2 linked regions of the Homo sapiens genome follow. The protein of the gene in region 1 interacts with the protein of each later gene in a pairwise test. Each region holds a gene or a part of one and is shown in the gene's direction. Other genes may lie near its edges.

The links. The genes of interacting proteins can lie anywhere in the genome.
Region 2: the proteins of TSNAXIP1 (region 1) and UTP6 interact in a two-hybrid assay, tested with the Homo sapiens proteins (one large-scale study listed by BioGRID).

Annotation. Positions count from the first base shown.
Region 1 is NC_000016.10:67,824,015-67,828,568, forward strand, and holds the end of TSNAXIP1 (translin-associated factor X-interacting protein 1), read left to right. Parts: intron 1-568; coding exon 569-765; intron 766-1,122; coding exon 1,123-1,258; intron 1,259-1,652; coding exon 1,653-1,822; exon of another isoform or gene 1,823-1,881; coding exon of another isoform or gene 1,882-1,902; coding exon 1,903-2,062; coding exon of another isoform or gene 2,063-2,137; coding exon 2,138-2,268; intron 2,269-2,422; coding exon 2,423-2,548; intron 2,549-2,677; coding exon 2,678-2,830; intron 2,831-2,948; coding exon 2,949-3,058; intron 3,059-3,234; coding exon 3,235-3,361; intron 3,362-3,458; coding exon 3,459-3,565; intron 3,566-3,738; coding exon 3,739-3,979; 3' UTR 3,980-4,054; downstream 4,055-4,554. Other genes in the region: CENPT (centromere protein T), read right to left, coding at 4,253-4,376, 4,460-4,554. UniProt on the Homo sapiens protein: Possible role in spermatogenesis.
Region 2 is NC_000017.11:31,870,709-31,875,315, reverse strand, and holds part of UTP6 (U3 small nucleolar RNA-associated protein 6 homolog), read left to right. Parts: coding exon 1-82; intron 83-1,562; coding exon 1,563-1,643; intron 1,644-1,828; coding exon 1,829-1,938; intron 1,939-4,607. UniProt on the Homo sapiens protein: Part of the small subunit (SSU) processome, first precursor of the small eukaryotic ribosomal subunit.

The DNA of each region.
Region 1 (4,554 bases):
TCGCAAAAAAAAAAAAAAAAAAAGAATGCAGCTCCCCTCCTTGTCCCAGCCTGGAAGGGGTGGAGAAGATCCTATTCGACCTTCTGGTGCTCCACAGCAGGGCTGGGGCAGCTACCAACTGGGCCTTGAGGTCACCAAGGCCCCTCAGCCATTCTGCACAGACTGTTCCATGATAGGGCACCCCAGAGCACCTGACAACACCTGTCATTGAGAAGCACAGGGGGGCAGTCCCTGTTGAAAATGGAGTGAACCCCAGGAGAGAGTCAGCACCTCTGGGAGTCAGCAGGCTCCCCTGCCAGGCTCAGGAGGTGCAGGGCATGGTGCAGCTGCAGGACTTAAGGCTGTAGGGGAAAGGACATAGGAGAGACCCCGGTCTTCATCTGAACTCTGCCCTTTGTTTAAAATCAAGTGCAGGAAGGCCTGAAACAGGGACCATGGCTTTGAACAAGGCATGCAGAGATTCTTGGGGTTTGCAAGCGACATAGCCACTCACCCATGACCTTAGGGTGTCTTCTGGCTGTTTGTTCTCCATGGCCCCAAAGCAGCTCTCCCACCTGTCTCTGCTTAGCCCACCAAAGGGAGAAGATTCGGGCTCTGGAGCCCCTGAAGGCCAAGCTTGTCACTGTGAATGAGGACTGCAATGAGAGGATCCTGGCCATGAGAGCTGAGGAGAAATATGAAATCTCCCTGCTCAAGAAAGAGAAGATGAACTTGCTAAAACTCATCGACAAAAAGAATGAGGAGAAGATTTCATTGCAGAGCGAGGTGAATGGAAGTGGTGTGATGATGACCAAGTCCCCGAATTCCTGCCAACTCCACGACAAGGGTGACCCCCTACCCTGCTCTGCCTTTCTACGGAGAGTGACACACTGAGCCACCACCTTCCCCCAGAGCCTTGCTAACTCCACCCTCTGCCCTGCTGCTAGGCTCAGTACTTTCCCCACAGGGGGAAACATTGGCACCTTGCCGAATTCTCAGAAATGGCCAATCTCCTTCTTCTTTCACCTTTCCTGTTCACAGTCCCTGATGGGGCCCCCCAGAACCCAGCCCACTCCCTGGGGTGACCAGCTGCATACAGGGGTCCAGGGGCAGCCCCTGACCACACAGCCACCTTCTTGCCAGGTGACCAAACTGAGGAAGAACTTGGCTGAGGAGTACCTGCACTACCTCAGTGAGCGAGATGCCTGTAAGATCCTCATCGCAGACCTGAATGAGCTGCGGTACCAGCGGGAGGACATGTCATTAGCCCAGTCGCCAGGTAAGCCTGAATTGGGAATCGGGTTTCTCTCTTCTCTGAGACGCTGGAAGACTCTGGTCTCACCCCTAAGCCCCATTCATTCAGCATTCCTAAGACCTGCTCATTCCATAACCATTCAGAGGGGAGATGTCCCTGCCTCCCGCAGGGCTGTGTATCTTCTGAGTTGAACTGAGAATTGTAGGAACACAGTTGGTAGCTGAGGCAGCCTAGGCTCCCAGTGGGCTGGACAGGCCTGGTACTCAGTTTCCTGGGCTTCTAGACTTTAGCCTGAAACCCTAGGCTGGTAGTGCTGTGGGCAAGAACCAGGGAACCCCAAACAGGAAGGGCAGAGGGCTTCAGGCAACCCCTGAGAAAGCCACGGTGACACGGGCTGGTGGGCCCCTTCCCCTGGCAGGCATCTGGGGGGAGGACCCTGTGAAGTTAACCCTGGCTCTTAAGATGACCCGGCAAGACCTGACCCGCACGCAGATGGAACTCAACAACATGAAGGCCAACTTTGGAGATGTGGTCCCCAGGAGGGACTTTGAAATGCAGGAGAAGACCAACAAGGATCTTCAGGAGCAGGTGCTGGCAGGCAGGCAGGGCCAGGAGGGTAGGACGGGGTCTCACAGGTGGGGGGCCAGGGCCAATGTCCTTGCCCACAGCTGGACACCCTGAGAGCCAGCTACGAGGAGGTTCGCAAGGAGCATGAGATCCTCATGCAGCTGCACATGAGCACGCTGAAGGAACGGGACCAATTCTTCTCTGAGCTGCAGGAGATCCAGCGCACTTCCACGCCGCGGCCTGACTGGACCAAGTGCAAAGGTGAGGGCAGCCGGCAGGGCCCCAGGTCCTGCTTACATGTGGGCCCAGACTCCAGCTCCCTCTCCCCACATGCAGATGTGGTGGCTGGGGGCCCAGAGCGCTGGCAGATGCTGGCTGAGGGCAAGAACAGCGACCAGCTGGTGGACGTGCTCCTGGAAGAGATTGGTTCGGGGCTGCTGCGGGAGAAAGACTTCTTCCCTGGTCTGGTAGGGGAGGCCCCAGGAGTGGGGCTTGGGCCAGAGTCAGAACAGCCATGCCCTGCTGCTCAGACAAGCTTTTGGGGAACCAACTGGGGATCTTCCCTGATTGGGGGTGGGGCCACAGATGGGTCCAGAGATGAGCTGATATCCTCCCTCCTAGGGCTATGGGGAAGCCATCCCTGCTTTTCTTCGGTTTGATGGCCTCGTGGAGAACAAGAAGCCAAGCAAGAAGGACGTGGTCAACCTCCTCAAGGATGCCTGGAAGGAACGTCTTGCTGAGGAGCAGGTCAGATCTCACCAGCCACTCTGGCCCAGCATGGTCTTCAGATCCAGAGTCCTCTGCAGGTCCAGAGGTGACAGGGATGAGGGCCAACCAACCGTAAGACTCTGACTGAGCATTTCCTCGATCCCGCAGAAAGAGACGTTCCCAGATTTCTTCTTCAATTTCCTGGAGCATCGCTTTGGGCCCAGTGATGCCATGGCCTGGGCTTATACTATTTTTGAAAATATCAAGATCTTCCACTCCAACGAGGTTATGAGTCAGTTCTATGCAGTCTTGATGGGAAAGGTGAGCTGGGGCCTATTCCCCTTGGGGAGACTGAGAGGGGTCTTTGTCCCTAGCATAGACCAGCTTTGCCCCCACCACTCCCAGGAACAGCAGGTGAATAATGCTTCTCTCCTTATAGCGGAGTGAGAATGTGTATGTCACCCAGAAGGAGACAGTAGCCCAGCTGCTGAAGGAGATGACAAATGCTGACAGTCAGAACGAGGGGCTACTAACCATGGAGCAGTTCAAGTGAGAGGCCAGTCCAGGCTACCCCCAACTCCTACCCAACTATTCCTGCATCTGTAGGGAAAAGGGGCACCTGGTGGGAAGGGCCACAGCCTCGGCACTCACTCCCTTTTGAGCACTAGGGAGAGGCACAAGCAGGCCTCAGCAGGTCCCTGTTGGCCCTCATGTCTCCCCTACAGCACTGTCCTCAAGAGTACCTTCCCTCTCAAGACAGAAGAGCAAATCCAGGAGCTGATGGAGGCAGGGGGCTGGCATCCCAGCAGCAGCAATGCAGACTTGCTCAACTACCGCTCACTGTTTATGGAGGTGGGTGTGTGGGGTCCGGGGACTGGCCTGGCCCCTGCCCTAGCCTTGGCTGGACCCTACCCAATGTGCCCTCCCCCTGACTTGTGGCCCCTCCCAGGATGAGGAGGGCCAGAGTGAGCCCTTTGTGCAAAAACTCTGGGAACAATACATGGATGAGAAGGACGAGTACTTACAGCAGCTAAAGCAGGAGCTTGGCATAGAACTGTGAGTGACCCTCATCCATAGGCGAGTCCCACAGGCTGGGCCCCTGAAGCCCCTGGGTCTCCCTGTGCACCATGCACCATCCACTGCTCAGCCCAGCACAGAGGAGGGCACCTGGGAGTCTGGGGCACGGAGAGGAGGGGTCAGGGCCTGTCACTCTCTTTCCTGTGGGGCAGCCATGAGGAAGTGACTCTGCCCAAGCTGCGAGGGGGCCTGATGACCATCGACCCCAGCCTGGACAAGCAGACAGTGAACACCTACATGAGCCAGGCCTTCCAGCTCCCTGAGTCGGAAATGCCAGAGGAGGGTGACGAGAAGGAAGAAGCCGTGGTGGAAATCCTCCAGACTGCCCTGGAGCGGCTTCAGGTGATTGACATCAGGCGTGTGGGACCTCGAGAGCCAGAGCCTGCAAGCTAGGAACTTGTGGGCAGCCTGCGTACTCCAGTCCTGCTAACCCCTAGCTTTTAATATAAAAGTGTTTGTCTGAATCCATGCCATTCTCCAGACTGTGCTGGGGAGTTGTGGGGGGGAATCAGTCCCTGCCTGGCTGGCCCCAGGACATGCACCAAAATGCAGAATATTCTGTTTATGACACTTTATTGATGCTGGGGGGGTGGGGAGGAGACCTGGAGAAATATGTGGGGGCAAGAGTCCCCAGGTGGGGACAGGGAAAGTGTTGAAGCCTGGCCACTACTGGGCAGGGAAGACAGAGTTGCCACTGTATGCACAGGGGATGAGCAGCTGCCGGTACTCCAGGGGCAGGTGCCGCTCCACTAGCACGTGCAGTGAGACTTGGTCAGTGACCAGGCCCTGCCTGCAGTGGAGGAAGAGAAGGGACAGGCAGAATCAGCACCAAAACTCCCCCAGCCAGCACCCCCACACCTTCCGCCTTCTCACCGCCGCATCAGCAGCTCCAGGTCCTCTGGCTTCACAGTCTTGCGGCCAGCATGAGCAGCAAATACCTCCAGATCATCACAAAGATGCTGGAAATA
Region 2 (4,607 bases), on another chromosome or scaffold:
GAAGCTGCAGGTGCTGATCGAGTCAAAGAGCCCTGACATAGCCATGCTTTTTGAAGAAGCCTTTGTGCACCTGAAACCCCAGGTCAGTGAGCTGGATCTTTTGTATTCATTATATTTGGGAAACCTTTTAAGACTAGCCAAGGCTCATTTGGAATGTACTTGTCTATTGAGAGCCAACTCTAGAGTGGCATTTGCTATTCAGTGGTGATGGTTCATAGGTTAAGAGTAGAAGAATTTGCTTCTATTTAATATCCTTTATTTGAAAGTTAACCAAATTAAATAAAACTTCCTATTCTATTTAGATATCTTATAAAGTTAGAAATACCAGTAGAATATTAATGTCACTTGCTGAATATAAGCCCAACCTTTTTTTTTTTTTTTTTTAAGATGGAGTCTCGCTCTGTTGTCCAGGCTGGAGTGCAGTGGCGTGATCTCAGCTCACTGCAATCTCTGCCTCCCGGGTTCAGGCAATTCTCCTGCCTCAGCCTCCCGAGTAGCTGGGACTACAGGCGCATGCCATCACACCTGACTAATATTTTCTATTTTAGTAGAGACAGGATATCTCCATGTTGGCCAGGCTGGTCTGGAACTCCTAGCCTCAAGTGATCTGCCCGCCTTGGCCTCCCAAAGTGCTGAGATTACAGGCGTGAGCCACGGTGTATGGCCAGATTCACTTTGCAGTGAATTTTTTATATTAGTAGGTAAAACGTATTCCAGAAGATAAAGTAGGAAAAAAACTACTGCTCATTTGGTGGTTTTTCCTTTTTTTTGAGATGAAGTCTTGTTCTGTTGCCCAGGCTGGAGTGCAGTGGTGCAAACTTGGCTCACTGCAACCTCCACCTCCCAGGTTCAAGCGATTCTCCTGTCTCAGCCTCCCAAGTAGCTGGGATAAGAAGTGCCCACCACCATGCCCAGCTAATTTTTGTATTTTTAGTAGAGACAGGGTTTTGCCATGTTGGCCAGGCTGGTCTTGAACTCCTGGCCTCAAGTGATCCGCCTGCCTCCGTCTTTAAAGTGCTGGGATTGCAAATGTGCGCCACCATGCCTCGCTTTTGCTGCTCATTTGTACGTACCTCTGGGACATGAATGAAGATCAGATAGTTCAGCCTAGATTAATTAGTTCTTGTGTTGTGGGTCTTAGACAGCAGAGACATGACCTGGGTAGCTGTGGGTCTAACTGTGTGGGCTGTTAATTACTTACTTAACTAAAAGATGATTGATGATAACTACATGAAATATTTCCCAATAGAAAGGAACTAAAATTCACAGAAGAGTGTTGCTCTGAGTGACTTGGTCAGAAGGCTGGCTGTGTTCTGGAGTGCCATTCCTGCTGGGCAATGAGAATTCTGTCACAATGAGGACTGTTTGGGAATGAATCCCTATTTTACATGTTGATTATCTTAGGAGGAACCTGCCTTTTTAACTAGTTTTCAGAGCATAGGACTAAACTGTCATTTTATAGCATAAAAAAATTGATACATAATATTTTACATATTTATAGGGTACATGCGATGTTTTGTTATATGCTGTTCTCTAACTAACATTTTTTAAACTGGGAGTAGGTTTGTCTGCCATTGTGGATTTCCTGGGCAGAGTGGAGTGAAGGTGCCAAAAGCCAAGAAGACACTGAGGCAGTCTTTAAGGTATAGGCTCCGTGTTCCAAGTCTTGTGGTGTGGGGAATGGCAGAAGGTTCCCTGGTTGGTCAGCTCTAGTGTTGCAGGTGCGCCTAAAGCACTATGGAGTGGCCTCAGGTGGTTCTGGGAAAATCTGTTTTGGTATCTATAAGTTTTCTCACATAGCTTCTTTCTTTTTTCTTTTAAATTGTAGAAAGCTCTCTTAGCTGTCATAGGTGCCGACTCAGTAACCCTGAAGAATAAGTACCTGGATTGGGCTTATCGAAGTGGTGGCTACAAAAAGGCCAGAGCTGTGTTTAAAAGGTACTCACAGACGTTCATAGTTGTTACTAGTCCCTCTACCCCATGCTCAGCCGCTCATACCCAGATTATTTGAATCACAGATAGCATCTGAGGGAGTAATCTGATACACTTTTTCTTTTTTTTTAAGATGGAGTCTTGCTCTGTTGCCCAGGCTGGAGTGCAGTGGCACAATCTCTGCTCACTGCAATCTCCGCCTCCTGCGTTCAAGTGATTCTCCTGCCTCGGCTTCCCGAGTAGCTAGGATTACAGGCACCTGCCACCACGCCTGGCTAATTTTTAAATTTTAGATTTTAAAGACAAGGTTTCACCATGTTGGCCAGGCTGGTCTCAAACTCCTAACCTCAGGTGATCTGCCCACCTCAGCCTCCCAAAGTGCAGGGATTACAGGCATGAGGCACCACACCTGACCCAATACACTGTTTCATTTTCCTTTTTTTTTGTTTTTTTTTTGTTTTTTTGAGACAGTGATTCTCCCGCCTTAGCCTCCTGAATAGCTGGGATTACAGATGTGTGACACCACGCCCGGCTAATTTTGTAATTTAGTAGAGACGGTTTCATCATGTTGGCCAGGCTGGTCTCGAACTGCTGATCTCAAGTGATTTGCTTGTCTTGGCCTCTCAAAGTGCTGGGATTACAGGCATGAGCCAGTGCATTTGGCCTCCAGTGAACTTTTTCAAAAAGTAATGTTTCCTTTTCTTTTTTGAGACAGGTTCTCGCTCTGTCACCTAGGTTAGAGTGTAGTGGCACAATCATGGTTCACCGAAGCCTTGACCTTCTGGGCTCAAGCAGTCCGCCCACCTCAGCCTCCCAAATGTCTGGGTCTACAGGCATGTACCACCATGTCCAGCTAACTTAAAACATTTTTTTTTTTTGGTAGAGACTGAGTCTCACAACATTGTTCAGCCTGGTCTCAAACTCCTGGGCTCAAGCAGTCCTCCTGCCTCAGCCTCCCAAAGTGCTAGGATTATAAGTGTAAGCCACCATGCCTGGCCTTCTTTTTCTTTTTTTTGAACAATAAAAGCAGTTCATTGTGGTGGGGGAAAACATAACCATGATAATTTATTACATCATCGAAGGAAAAATTACTGTTAACACATAATTTTAAAATTTGTTTTTATGTAGTTGAGATTATAGTATAACTGTAATTTTATTTATGATTTAAAAAAAATTTCTTTTTTTTTTTGAGATGGAGTCTCACTGTGTTGCCCAGGCTGGAGTGCAGTGGTACAGTCTCGGCTCACTGCAACTTCTGCCTCCCGGGTTCAAGCGATTCTCCTGCCTCAGCCTCCTGAGTAGCTGGGATTACAGGCATGTGCCACGACGCCCGGCTAATTTTTTATATTTTTAGTAGATAAGGGTTTTTGCCATGTTGGCTAGGCTGGTCTCGAACTCCTGACCTCTGGTGACCTGCCCGCCTCGGCCTCCCTAAGTGTTGGGATTACAGGTGTGAGCCACTGTGCCCGGCCTAAATATTTTTTTTTTCTTTGAGACAGAGTCTTGCTCTGTTGCCCAGGCTGAGTGTAATGGCGCCATCTTGGCTCACTGCAAACTCTGCCTTCCTGGTTCAAGTGATTCTTGTGCGTTAGCTTCCCAAGTAGCTGGGACTACAGGTGTGTGCCACCACACCCAGGTAATTTTTTATTTTTAGTAGAGATGGGGTTTCACTGTGTTGCCCAGGCTGGTCTTGAACTCCTGGGCCCAAGCAATCTGCCCAGCTCAGCCTCCCAAAATGCTGGGATTACAGGCATGAGCTACCATGCCTGGCGATGCCCCGCTAATTCTTAAATTTTTTTGCAGAGTCAGGGTCTCGCCTTGTTGCTTAAACTGATCTTGACCTTATGGCTTCCAGTGATCTTCCTGCCTTGGCCTCCCAAAGGGCTGGGATTGTAGGTATGAGGCACTGTGCCCAGCCAAAAATTCTTTATAAACATCATTTATTAAACATAGCTATATGAGCTGGGCACGGTGGTTCAAGGCCTCTAATCTCAGGATTTTGGGAGACTGAGACAAGAGGATTGCTTGATCCCAAGCATTTGAGACGAGCGTGGGCAACACAACGAGACTTCATTTCTATGAAAAGTTAAAAGGCCGGGTGCGGTGGCTCATGCCTGTAATCCTAGCACTTTAGGAGGCCGAGGCGGGCGGATCACAAGGTCAGGAGTTCGAGACCATCCTGGCTAACACGATGAAACCCCGTCTCTACTAAAAAAAATACAAAAAATTAGCCGGGCGTGGTGGCAGGCGCCTGTATTCCCAGCTACTTGGGAGGCTAAGGCAGGAGCATGGCGTGAACCTGGGAGGCGGAGCTTTCAGTGAGCTGAGATCGCGCCACTGCATTCCAGCCTGGGCGACAGAGCAAGACTCCATCTCAAAAAAAAAAAAAAAAAAAACTTAAAAAGTTGGGTGTCATGGCATGTGCCTGTGATTTTAGCTACTTGGGAAGCTGAAGTCAGAGGATCACTTGAGTCCAGGTGGTTGAGGCTGTAGTGAGCCGTGTTTGTGCTAGTACACTCCAGCCTTGGTGACAGAGTGAGACCCTGTCTCAAAACAAAAACATCCAGGTGCGGTGGCTCATGCCTGTAATCCCAGCACTTTGGGAGGTCGAGGCAGACGGATCACGAGGTCAGGAGATCGAGACCATCCTGGCTAATATGGTGAAACCCTGTCTC